Linked DNA regions of Homo sapiens. The protein of the gene in region 1 purifies or fractionates together with the protein of each later gene. This does not show direct contact. Each region holds a gene or a part of one and is shown on either strand. Other genes may lie near its edges.

Evidence for each region. Proteins that work in one complex are often made in the same cells at the same time.
Region 2: the proteins of SPSB1 (region 1) and RASA1 purify together in Homo sapiens (affinity purification with western blotting, with the first as the bait; one study listed by BioGRID). This does not show direct contact.

The regions. Positions count from the first base shown.
Region 1 is NC_000001.11:9,298,250-9,303,580, forward strand, and holds part of SPSB1 (SPRY domain-containing SOCS box protein 1), read left to right. Parts: intron 1-5,331. UniProt on the Homo sapiens protein: Substrate recognition component of a SCF-like ECS (Elongin BC-CUL2/5-SOCS-box protein) E3 ubiquitin-protein ligase complex which mediates the ubiquitination and subsequent proteasomal degradation of target proteins.
Region 2 is NC_000005.10:87,375,421-87,380,156, reverse strand, and holds part of RASA1 (ras GTPase-activating protein 1), read right to left. Parts: intron 3,765-4,736; coding exon 3,592-3,764; intron 3,277-3,591; coding exon 3,117-3,276; intron 1,762-3,116; coding exon 1,619-1,761; intron 423-1,618; coding exon 307-422; intron 1-306. UniProt on the Homo sapiens protein: Inhibitory regulator of the Ras-cyclic AMP pathway. Stimulates the GTPase of normal but not oncogenic Ras p21; this stimulation may be further increased in the presence of NCK1.

The sequences.
Region 1 (5,331 bases):
TACAGGTCAAATGAAAAAAAGTCTAACTTGAATAATTAAAACAGAAAAATAATTAAAACAGAAAATCACAGCCCTCAATCAACTTCCCAGACTTAACCCAGTTTACACAACTAAGCCCCCATGAATGAATGAATGAGTGAATGAATGAATGAGTGAACGAATGAATGAATAAGTGAACGAATGAATGAATAAGTGAATGAATAAGTGAATGAATGAATGAATGAATTGGAAGCTGGATCCCTTTGAAGAAGGACCTCAGTACACTAGAGAAAGTTTATGCTATTAATTTTTCTCCTAGCCTTCCCCAAAGGGACCTGTGACCTTTTACCAGAGTGAATATGTATTGAGGAAAGGGAAATAATTAGATTGTTCGGGGATAACTGGTTACTGAACTGATACTGATTCCAGGAAACCAAAAATATCACTCACTGTGGCCCACTAGTCAGAGAAGGGGCTTATGGAGGTCAGGTGATCAATGGAGTTTTAGCTTAGGTTTGACTCCTGGTGGCTCCCGTGGATCCCTGAACCCATCCTGGGGTTATTTCCTGGTTCCAGATTCAAAGTTGACATACTTAGCACCTGGCAGAATCCACACACTGGTTCCCTGCCTTGTGCGGTGAGGGCTGTTATGGTGGGAAAGGCCAAGTGGAAACCATTAGCGTTGCCTCTGCCTGGGAAAATAGTACATCAAAAGCAACATTGCATCCCTGGGGTGGGGCTGCCGAGATTAGCACCACCATCAAGGACTTGGAGGAGGCGGGGGTGGTGACCCCCACCACATCCCCATTCAACTCTCCGATTTGGCCTGTGCAGAAGACAGATGGACTTTAGAAACTGATAGTGGATTATTGTAAACTTAACCAAGTGGTGACTGCAAAATTCACACATCTCTGGTCCCTGCTACTGCATGCAGCTGTTGATCTGACGAATGCCCTTCTCTTTATACCTGTCCATAAGGCCCAGCAGAAGCAGTTTGCATCCAGCTGGTAAGGCCGGCAATGCCCCTTGGCGGTCTGGGCTGATGGGTATATCAGCTCTCCAGCCCTATGTCACAGTTTAGTTCACAGTCATCTTGATCACCTTTCCCTTCCACAGATATCATACTGGGGCTGGGCACGGTGGCTCACTCCTGTAATCCTAGCACTTCAGGAGGCCGAGGCAGGAGGATCGCTTGAACTTAGGAGTTTGAGACCAGCCTGGGCAACACAGTGAGACGTCATCTCTCTCTCTCTCTCTCTCTTTTTTTGAGATGGATTTTTTGCTCTTGTTGCCTAGGCTGGAGTGCAATGGTGCAATCTCGGCTCACTGCAACCTCCGCCTCCCGGGTTCAAGCAATTCTCCTGCTTCAGCCTCCTGAGTAGCTGGGATTACAGGCATGCGCCACCACACCCAGCTAATTTTTTGTATTTAGTAGAGACAGGGTTTCACTATGTTGGTCAGGCTGGTCTTGAACTCCTGACACCAAGTGATTCACCCGCCTTGGCCTCCCAAAGTTCTGGGATTACAGGCATGAGCCACTGCGCCCGGGCCGACATCATCTCTATAAATTTTTTTTTTTTTTAAATTAGCCAGGCATGATGGTGTGTGCCTGTGGTCCCAGCTACTTGGGTGGCTGAGGTGGGAGGATCGCTTGAGCCTAGGAGGTCAAGACTTGCAGTGAGCAGTGATTGTGTTACTTTACTCCAACCTGGGCAACAGAGTAAGACCCTGTCTCAAAAAAAAAAAAAAAAAAAGGGTCTCATGCTGGTCCATTACATTGATGTCATCATGCTTCATTGGACCTAGTGAGCAAGAAGTCGCAACCACTGTAGCCTTATTGGTAGGACATTTACATGTCAAGCGATGGGAAATAAATTCTACTGAAATTCGGGGACCTTCTCCCTTAGTGAAATTTCTCGGGGTCCAGTAGTGTCAGGCCTGTGAAGGTATCCCCTCTAAGGTGAAGAATAAGTTGTTACAGCTTTCCTCCTGCAACCAAGAAAGAGGCACAATGCCTCGTGGGCCTGTTTGGACTTTGGAGGCAACACATTCCTCATTTGGGTGTGTTACTCCAGCCCATTTGCTGAGTCACCCTAACGCTTCTAGTTTTGAGTGGGGCCCGTAGCAGAAGACTGCAACAGGTCCAGGTTGCTGTGCAACCTGCTTTGCCACTTGGGCCACCAGCAGATCCAGTGGTGGTTGAGGTCAGCGGCAGACAGGGAGGCTGCTTAAAGCCTTTGGCAGGCCCCTGTAGATGAATCGCAGTACAGGCCTTGGGATTTTGGAGCAAGGCCCTGCCATCATCCACAAATAACTTCATTCCTTTTGAGAGACAGCTCTTGGCCTAATACTGGACCCTAGTAGAGACTTAATGTTTGACCATCAGCCACGAAGTTGCCATGTGACCTGAGCTGCCCATCATGAAGTGGGTGTTATCTATGATCTGACCGACCAAACCAGACATTGGGCATGTGTGGCAGAACGCTGCCATCGAGAGGAAGTGGTATATATGGGATCAGGTCTGAGCAGGTCCTGAAGGCACAAGTAAGTGACATGAGGAAGTGGTCCAAAGGCCCATGGTTCTTACTTTGCCCACTGCCTTCTCTCTCCAGCCTGTATCTATGGTCTCCTGGGGAGTTCCCTCTGATCGATTGACAGTGGAAGAGAAGACTTAGTCAGCCTGGTTTGCAGATGGCTACAGATGGCTCTGCACTATATGAAGGCACAACCCGAAAGTGGACAGCTGCAGCACTATAGCCCCTTGCTGGGACACCTCTGAAGGATGGGGGTGAAGGGAAATCCTCCCTGGCAGAGCTTCGGGCAGTGCACCTGGTTGTGCACCTTGCTTCGAAGGAGAGATGGCCAGATGAGTGATTATATACTGATCCATGGGCTGTGCCTGATGATTTGGCTGGATGGTCAGGGATTTGGGGACTTGGAAAGAGTATGATTGGAAGATTGGTGACAAAGAAAGCTGGGGGCCTGGCATAGTGGCTCACACCTGTAATCCCAGCACTTTGGGAGGCCAAGGTGGGAGGATTGCTTGAGCCCAAGGAGTTCGAGACCAGCCTGAGCAACATAGTGAGACTCCCCGCCCCCGCCATCTCTACAAAAATAAAAAATTAGCTGGGCGTGGTAGCTCATGCCTGCAGTCCCAGCTACTTGGGAGGCTGAGGTGGGAGGATCACTTGAGCCTAGGAGGTTGAGGCTGCAGTGAGCTGTGATTGCTCCAGCCTGGGCAACAGAATGAGACCCTGTATCAAAAAACCCAACCAAACAAAAAAGCAATTGGGGGAAGATGTATGTGGATAGACCTGAGTGCGCACAGGACACGGATAGACCTCCCGAGTGCGCACAGGACATGAGGTATGTGGGTAGGATGACCTAGGTGGATTCTCGTCAGCCTCTTTCCCTGGCCACCCCTGTCATCGCCTGGTGGGCTCAGGAACAAAGTGGTCATGGTGGCAGAGATGGAGGTGATGCATGGGCTCAGCAGCATGGACTGCCACTCACCAAAGCCGACCTGGCTATGGCTACCACTGGCTGCTAGTCTGCCAGAAGCGGAGACTAACACTGAGCTCCAGTATGGCCCCATTCCCCGGGATGATCACTGCACCTGGTGGAAGGCACATTGGACCACTTCTGTTTTGGAAGGGGCAGCGTTTTGTCCTTACTGGAGCAGGCACTTATTCTGGATACAGATTCGTCTTCCCTGCACACAGTGCTTCTGCCAAAGTCACCATCCATTGATTGACAGAACACCTTTCCCACTGTCACGCTGTCCGTGTAGCACTGCTTCCAGGGAGCTCACTTCACAACCAAGGAAGTGTGGCACTGGGATCATGTGCAGGGAATTGGCCGGTGAGCACGAGCCCACTGGTTTCGCCTATCATGCTAAGTGGAACTACGGTCTTGTTATTGCCTTTATTTGGAAATTAAGTATGGTTTAAGAAGATGCCAGTGGGTGCCTATGGGTGCCAGTTGGTAAGGGGTGGACCTGTGATGATTGATTTTGGATGTCAACTTGACTAGATTAAGGAATACCCAGGTAGATGGTAAAGCATTGATTATTCTCTATGCTTCAGTACACACTGAGCCTGTCCCTTTTCTGCTGACAGGGAAGCCCAGTGGTTTGACATTGTGTAGAATGATCGGGCTGCCCCAGATGTGTCTGTGAGGGTGTTTTTGGAGGACACTGGCAATTGAGTCACTCAACTGGGTGGGGAGGATCTGCCCTCCATGTGGGCAGGCACCATCCAGTCAGCCGGGGGCCTGGAAGAAGGGTGAATCCTGGCTCTCTGTCCCGGAGCTGGGATGCTCTTCTCCTGCGCTTGGATGTCAGAACTCCAGGTTCTCTGGCCTTTGGACTCTGGGACTCGTACGAGTGGTCTCCGGAGTCTTTGACCTGGGACTGGGAATGACCACGTTCCCCACCATCCTGAAGCAGCTGACTTGAAAGAAGGGCAGTAGAGTCTTTTGAAGTTGCAATTACAATGCCAGCTAGGTGACAATACTTTGTAGGGCTGGGTCAGGGGTCTTCAAAAGGCTCTATGTACTCTGTATCAGCATCCAATATATGGTGCTGGTTTCTCCCGTAGCCAGGATTCACGGGTCCAGGAATCAAGGGGAGGAAATGGGAGTGGCACTGCGCATCATATCCCCTAGGGACCCGCTAGCGAAATTGTTGCTTCCTGTTCCTGTGACTTTATGCTCTGCTGGCCTGGAGGTCTTGGTTCCAGAGAGAGGAATGCTCCTACCAGGAGACACAACAGTGATTCCATTGAACGGGGGGTAAGGCTGCCACCTGGCTTCTTTGGGCTCCCTGTGCCTCTGGGTCAGCAGGCTGAGAGGGGAGTGATGGTGTTGGCTGTGGAGATTGATCTGGACTACCAAGGGGAAATTGATCTGGACTGCTCCACAATGAGGCAAGGAAGAGTGTGTCTGGAGTACAGGATACTCCTTAGGGCATCTGTTAGTATTACCATGCCCTGTGATTAAGTCAATGGGAAATTACAAGGATACAATCCAGGCAGGACTGTGAATGACTCAGACCCTTCAGGAATGAATGTTTGGGTCACTCTGCCACTTAAAGAACCACAGCCAGCTGAGGTGCTTGTTGCAGACGAAAGGAACACAGAACAGGACAGAGGGAGGTAGTTATAATAAATACCAGCTCCAACCACGTGACCAGTTACAGAAACAAGGGCCAGAATTGCTGGGAGTATTTCCTCCCTATTTTGTTCAGAATACGGTTGTATGCATTTACATGTATATTAGGCAAATATCTGTTTTCTTTCCTCTCTTACTCCTTATTCTTAGAACATGTGTTGAGTCTATAGCAGTATTTAAGTA
Region 2 (4,736 bases), on another chromosome or scaffold:
TATCAAGTATAGACTAAATGGATAGACAAGATATCTTTTACAATCTCAAATCTGAAACTATAAACCTCTATTCACTCCCCAAGCTACTACAGTACAAACCAGACATATTGGCTTGTACGAAAATAATGGGTGGTTTTATTAAGACAGCTATTTTCTTTAAATACAATTCATCTCATAAAGATTAACCATGACTTTTTCAGAGTATAATAATATTAGGACAACAGAAAAGCTTTCACGTTTTAGAAATAGAAATTTCTGAAGACATAGATACACAATTTCTTGTCAAATGAAAATTTCACCACTTACGGTGGAAGTATTTCTGAAGCCATGAATATTTTCTCCACAAGCTCTGAAAGTATGTTCAATAGGTGTGTTAAATTAGTGTTCACATCTTCATTTTTTTCTAACTTTGATGGACTTAACTAAAAGAAGGAATAAATCAATATAAATGCATGTTGGCAATGACAAATGCAAATGAATAGAGGAAAACAAGTAGTTATAGTTTTCGAGGTTGTCTATTTTTCGGTATCTCTGTGTGTATTGATCTTTTTTCTTTGTATAATGGGAGTTTTTAAGTAGTTTTCTCTATGGAACTCCTCCTGGTAGGTCTGTTACCATTTATTCCCAATTAGCCAACTGAAAAGCAAACAGTGCTTAGTCAATTCTATTTATTTGAGGGGAAAAAAAGCTGATTAAAAGCTTTTCTGAATGAGGCTTATTTAATGGCTAATAAAAATATCAAATGCCTTAGGCAGAATCACAAACCTTTCTCAGAACTTTTCCTGTAACCCTTCTGATCTAGTGTCAGCAGAGTACATTTATCTATGGAAGTCGGAATTCCGTAGCCTATCTCTAAAGTCCAGAGACTCCCTACCTACCTGCTGCACTTCTGTGTCATCCTTATGTTAGGCCAACTATGGCATTACCCCACATTTCCAACATTAAATCACTAATTTCTTCCCTTCAAGTTATTAGTATGAATCGACACCTTCGTGCAGGATTAACATTTGCTAGGTCCCAGTGTCCATTGTCAAAAACAATTCCTTAAACTGATTTTTATATCAGATCTAATATATATTATTTCTTTGTAGTTGCTTTACCATTAAAATGAGAGAATATGTGTGTGAGATTCCACTTACTGTCTTAATAGTGTATTATGAATTTATACTGAAACTTTAATAATCCTAAAAAGATTTTTTTGTTTTAGTTGAGGTTATCTCATAATTCTCCCCTCGCAAAAAAACCTTCAAGAACAAACCAAGATGTAATGAAGTGCTACATAGGTTATATAATGAGTCACTAACAAAACCTTCAATTTATCTTATGCACGCTTTCTGTAAGTAGTATATAGATTATTAGTACAGTAGAGGAAATGACAAAGTATTTTCATGAATTTCTGGTGCAACTTGATGGTTTTTAATCCCAAAATAAAGTACATCTTTTTTAAGAAGTCCATTTTGCAGAACATTTTTATAAATGTATTACAGACAGGTGTAACTGCTATGAGGAATAATTTTAGAAATTTAATATATTTTCCTTAAAATGTAATTGGCTACAAATTATTACCTATTAAAATATGTTCTTTGCAAAAATACTTATTAAAACATTAAATTCTTACCTCACAAGACTGCTTGCTTTCCATTATCTTTAAAATAGAGTCTTTCAAAGCATGATGAACAAACTGTGTAGCAGTGGCTTTCATATACTGCTCCATCAAGGTGCTTGCAAGTGTTGTGGCTCGAAATAGGGTAGTGGCTTCATCTACACAAATATTTACATTAGAAGATTATTTGTAAAGGACTGACCTAATGTGACCAAATTGGAAATTAAGTGAATTCATTTTACCTCAACAGGAATAGCCACTTAAATGTGCTTTTTGCGTGCAGCGTTGAAAGTACTAATTACAATGACATCCTATACTTCTACAGACTTAACTCTGTAAGACTTTCATATGTATTACCTCATTAGATCATGAACAGAAGGGATTAACACTGCCATGTTCATATGGAAAAATGAAGACTCAGAATTGTTATATGACTTAAGATCAATTAGACAGCTAATGATAAAATTAGGACCATAAATCAGCTTTGCTGCCCATTGACCCCATGCTTTGAAATTTTAGGGTTTATTTACAATTAAGGATATAACACAAAATCCCAGTATAGATTAATTTATTAGCTTAAAATATGTCTACTGAGTTTCAGTAAAATTTTAATGAAATACAAATGCTGTCAGAAAAGATAAACTCAAGTGTAAAATAAGGACCACCATTTTATCTATTCCTTGACAAATCTATATTTTGTGATGAGGAGGAAAATAGTTCTAAACTTTACTATTTATTTGGGGAACCTAGAAGCAAGAACTGTTAATGAATCAAAGTGCTTGGTGGTGTGTGTGGGCCAGGGGGAGGGTGGATTATTTTGTAAGCCATTAAAAGCACTGTGTCCAGCAGCTTGGGAACTACCTATCTATAAAAGTTAGAAATAAAATGCAGCTGACACCCAGCTTCTGTGTAATGAAGAAGTAAAAATTAAACAAGACCTGTAACCCCGGCACTTTGGGAGGCTTGAGGCAGGCGGATCACCTGAAGTCAGGAGTTCAAGACCAGCCTGGCCAACATGGTGAAAACCCGTCTCTACTAAAAAAATAAAATAAAAAATTAGCTGGGTGTGGTGGCATATGCCTGTAGTCCCAGCTACTTAGGAGGCTGAGGCAGGAGAATCGCTTGAACCTGAGAGGTAGAGGTTGCAGTGAGCCGAGACTGCGCCACTGCACTGCAGCCTGGGCGACTGAGATGCCATCTCAAAAGAAAATAAAAAACAAGAGAATACAGATAAATATGCCAAACAGTCAAGCCATTGATGTAGACACAGATACCACCTTCTTGTGGCTTCTAGTACTTATCTGCCAAAACCTACATTAGAAATATCAGCTTCCCATAGTAACCAACATAATCAGAACTGACATCCAACTGCAATTTTTAAGGAGGGAAAACAGAATAACTTATTTTGCAATATAATTTAACAATTTAGTATATTCAGAGATAGAGTCCATATATCCTTGATATAAAATCTAAACCCAGTTTCTTGTATCACACTAACATGGCCATACCATACCTTCCATGCTTATTTCTCTGTCATTTAGTGTGCATAACAACAACGATTCAAGCTTTTCGTGAAGAAAAATCCTCAGTAGGATGCTGGCCAGTAGTGTTCGGTCTTGTCCACATACATGTGATAAAGCATAGACTACATGAAGTTCCTTTTGCAGTATAAGCTAAAATGACATTTTAAAAGATTGTTTAAAGTACGTAGCATTATAAGCATGCTCCATGAGACTAACAAGAAATATGTTCTTTCACAAGTTCTTATATTTAAAATGATGTCCCATTGAATAAATTTATTTAAAATAGAATGAATTCGTAGTCTACTTATTTCTACCAAAATTACAGTATAAAACAAGGTTTAAAATCTCTGGCATCATTGTGCTACTAAGCTATGAATTACTATGTTTACCTTAATGGATCTTTTATTAAATGTTAAATGTTTCTGTTAATTCCAACAAAAACAAGACTGATAAATAATTTAATACCTCTTTAAATTCACTGTACTCTTCTTCTGGCATGATTTTTTCCATAGAGTATCGTGCTCGAACACGCAGGGACCCTGGTTCAATACCTTTTAATGGTATATGGGAGCTGAGCAGAAACCATTCATCTGTGGCATGCCCTTTCTGTAATCGGCTCAACTGGCAGCGCATAAATACTTGGGAAGAAAAACAAGCAATTATTGTTTAAAAAGAGAACACGATAATTAGTCATGCAAGTAAATTTTCCTGGTGTTCAGTCTTCCCTATGGTGTTAAATGCTTTTCATTAAAGGAGTTTTCAGTAACATCACAAATTCAATATTTAGTTGTTTATTTACTGAGTGTCTACGGTGCACTAAACTCTGATAGGTAGAGAGTACAGAGATGATTGAGATGTGTTCTTTGAGTTGCATAGAGGTCAGTTTAGTCAAGAAGGCAAGAAATCAATTATGTTTCAGCACTGGTAAGTGCTGTTAACAGTGGTGAATGCTATTCGAGTACAGAGAAATAATATCTAATTCAGCCTGTGGAGGTGAAAACTCCACTTTAAACAGGTAACCCTTGAGCGGACGAGATCTAGAGGTGTAGCTAAGAAGAAAAGTAGTGAAAAAAGAAAAAAGAGCACTTCAAATATAAGGTATGGCCTTCGTTCTGTGTCATTACTATGGGGTTTGGATTTTATCGTAAAAGTAATGGAAAACTAAAATTACTACAAAAAACTACAGAATAAACATTTTATAGAGAAATATTCAGGCTTTGATCTGTTAATACATATCACTTCCTTCCCTAAGCCTGAGTTTTAAGAAGGTATTAACCTAATTCACCCTGATGTGAACTGGTAAATCTCACTGTCAACTGTTTTAGCAGCAGGATGGAAGGAGCTGTGCTGCTGAGGACAGGAACTGGGAGCCTTTGACTACCAGAAGTGAATAAGTGACATATTCAAGTTTAAGGGAAATTTTTAAATAGAATAAATGACATTCAAGTTTAAGGGAAATTTTTAAATAGAATACTTTTTTACTTATATGGTAATGTAATCCCAGCATTTTGGGAGGCCGAGGCCGGCAGATCACCTGAGGTCAGGAGTTTGAAACCAGCCTGGCCAACATGCTGAAACCCCGTCTCTACTAAAAATACAAAACTTAGCCA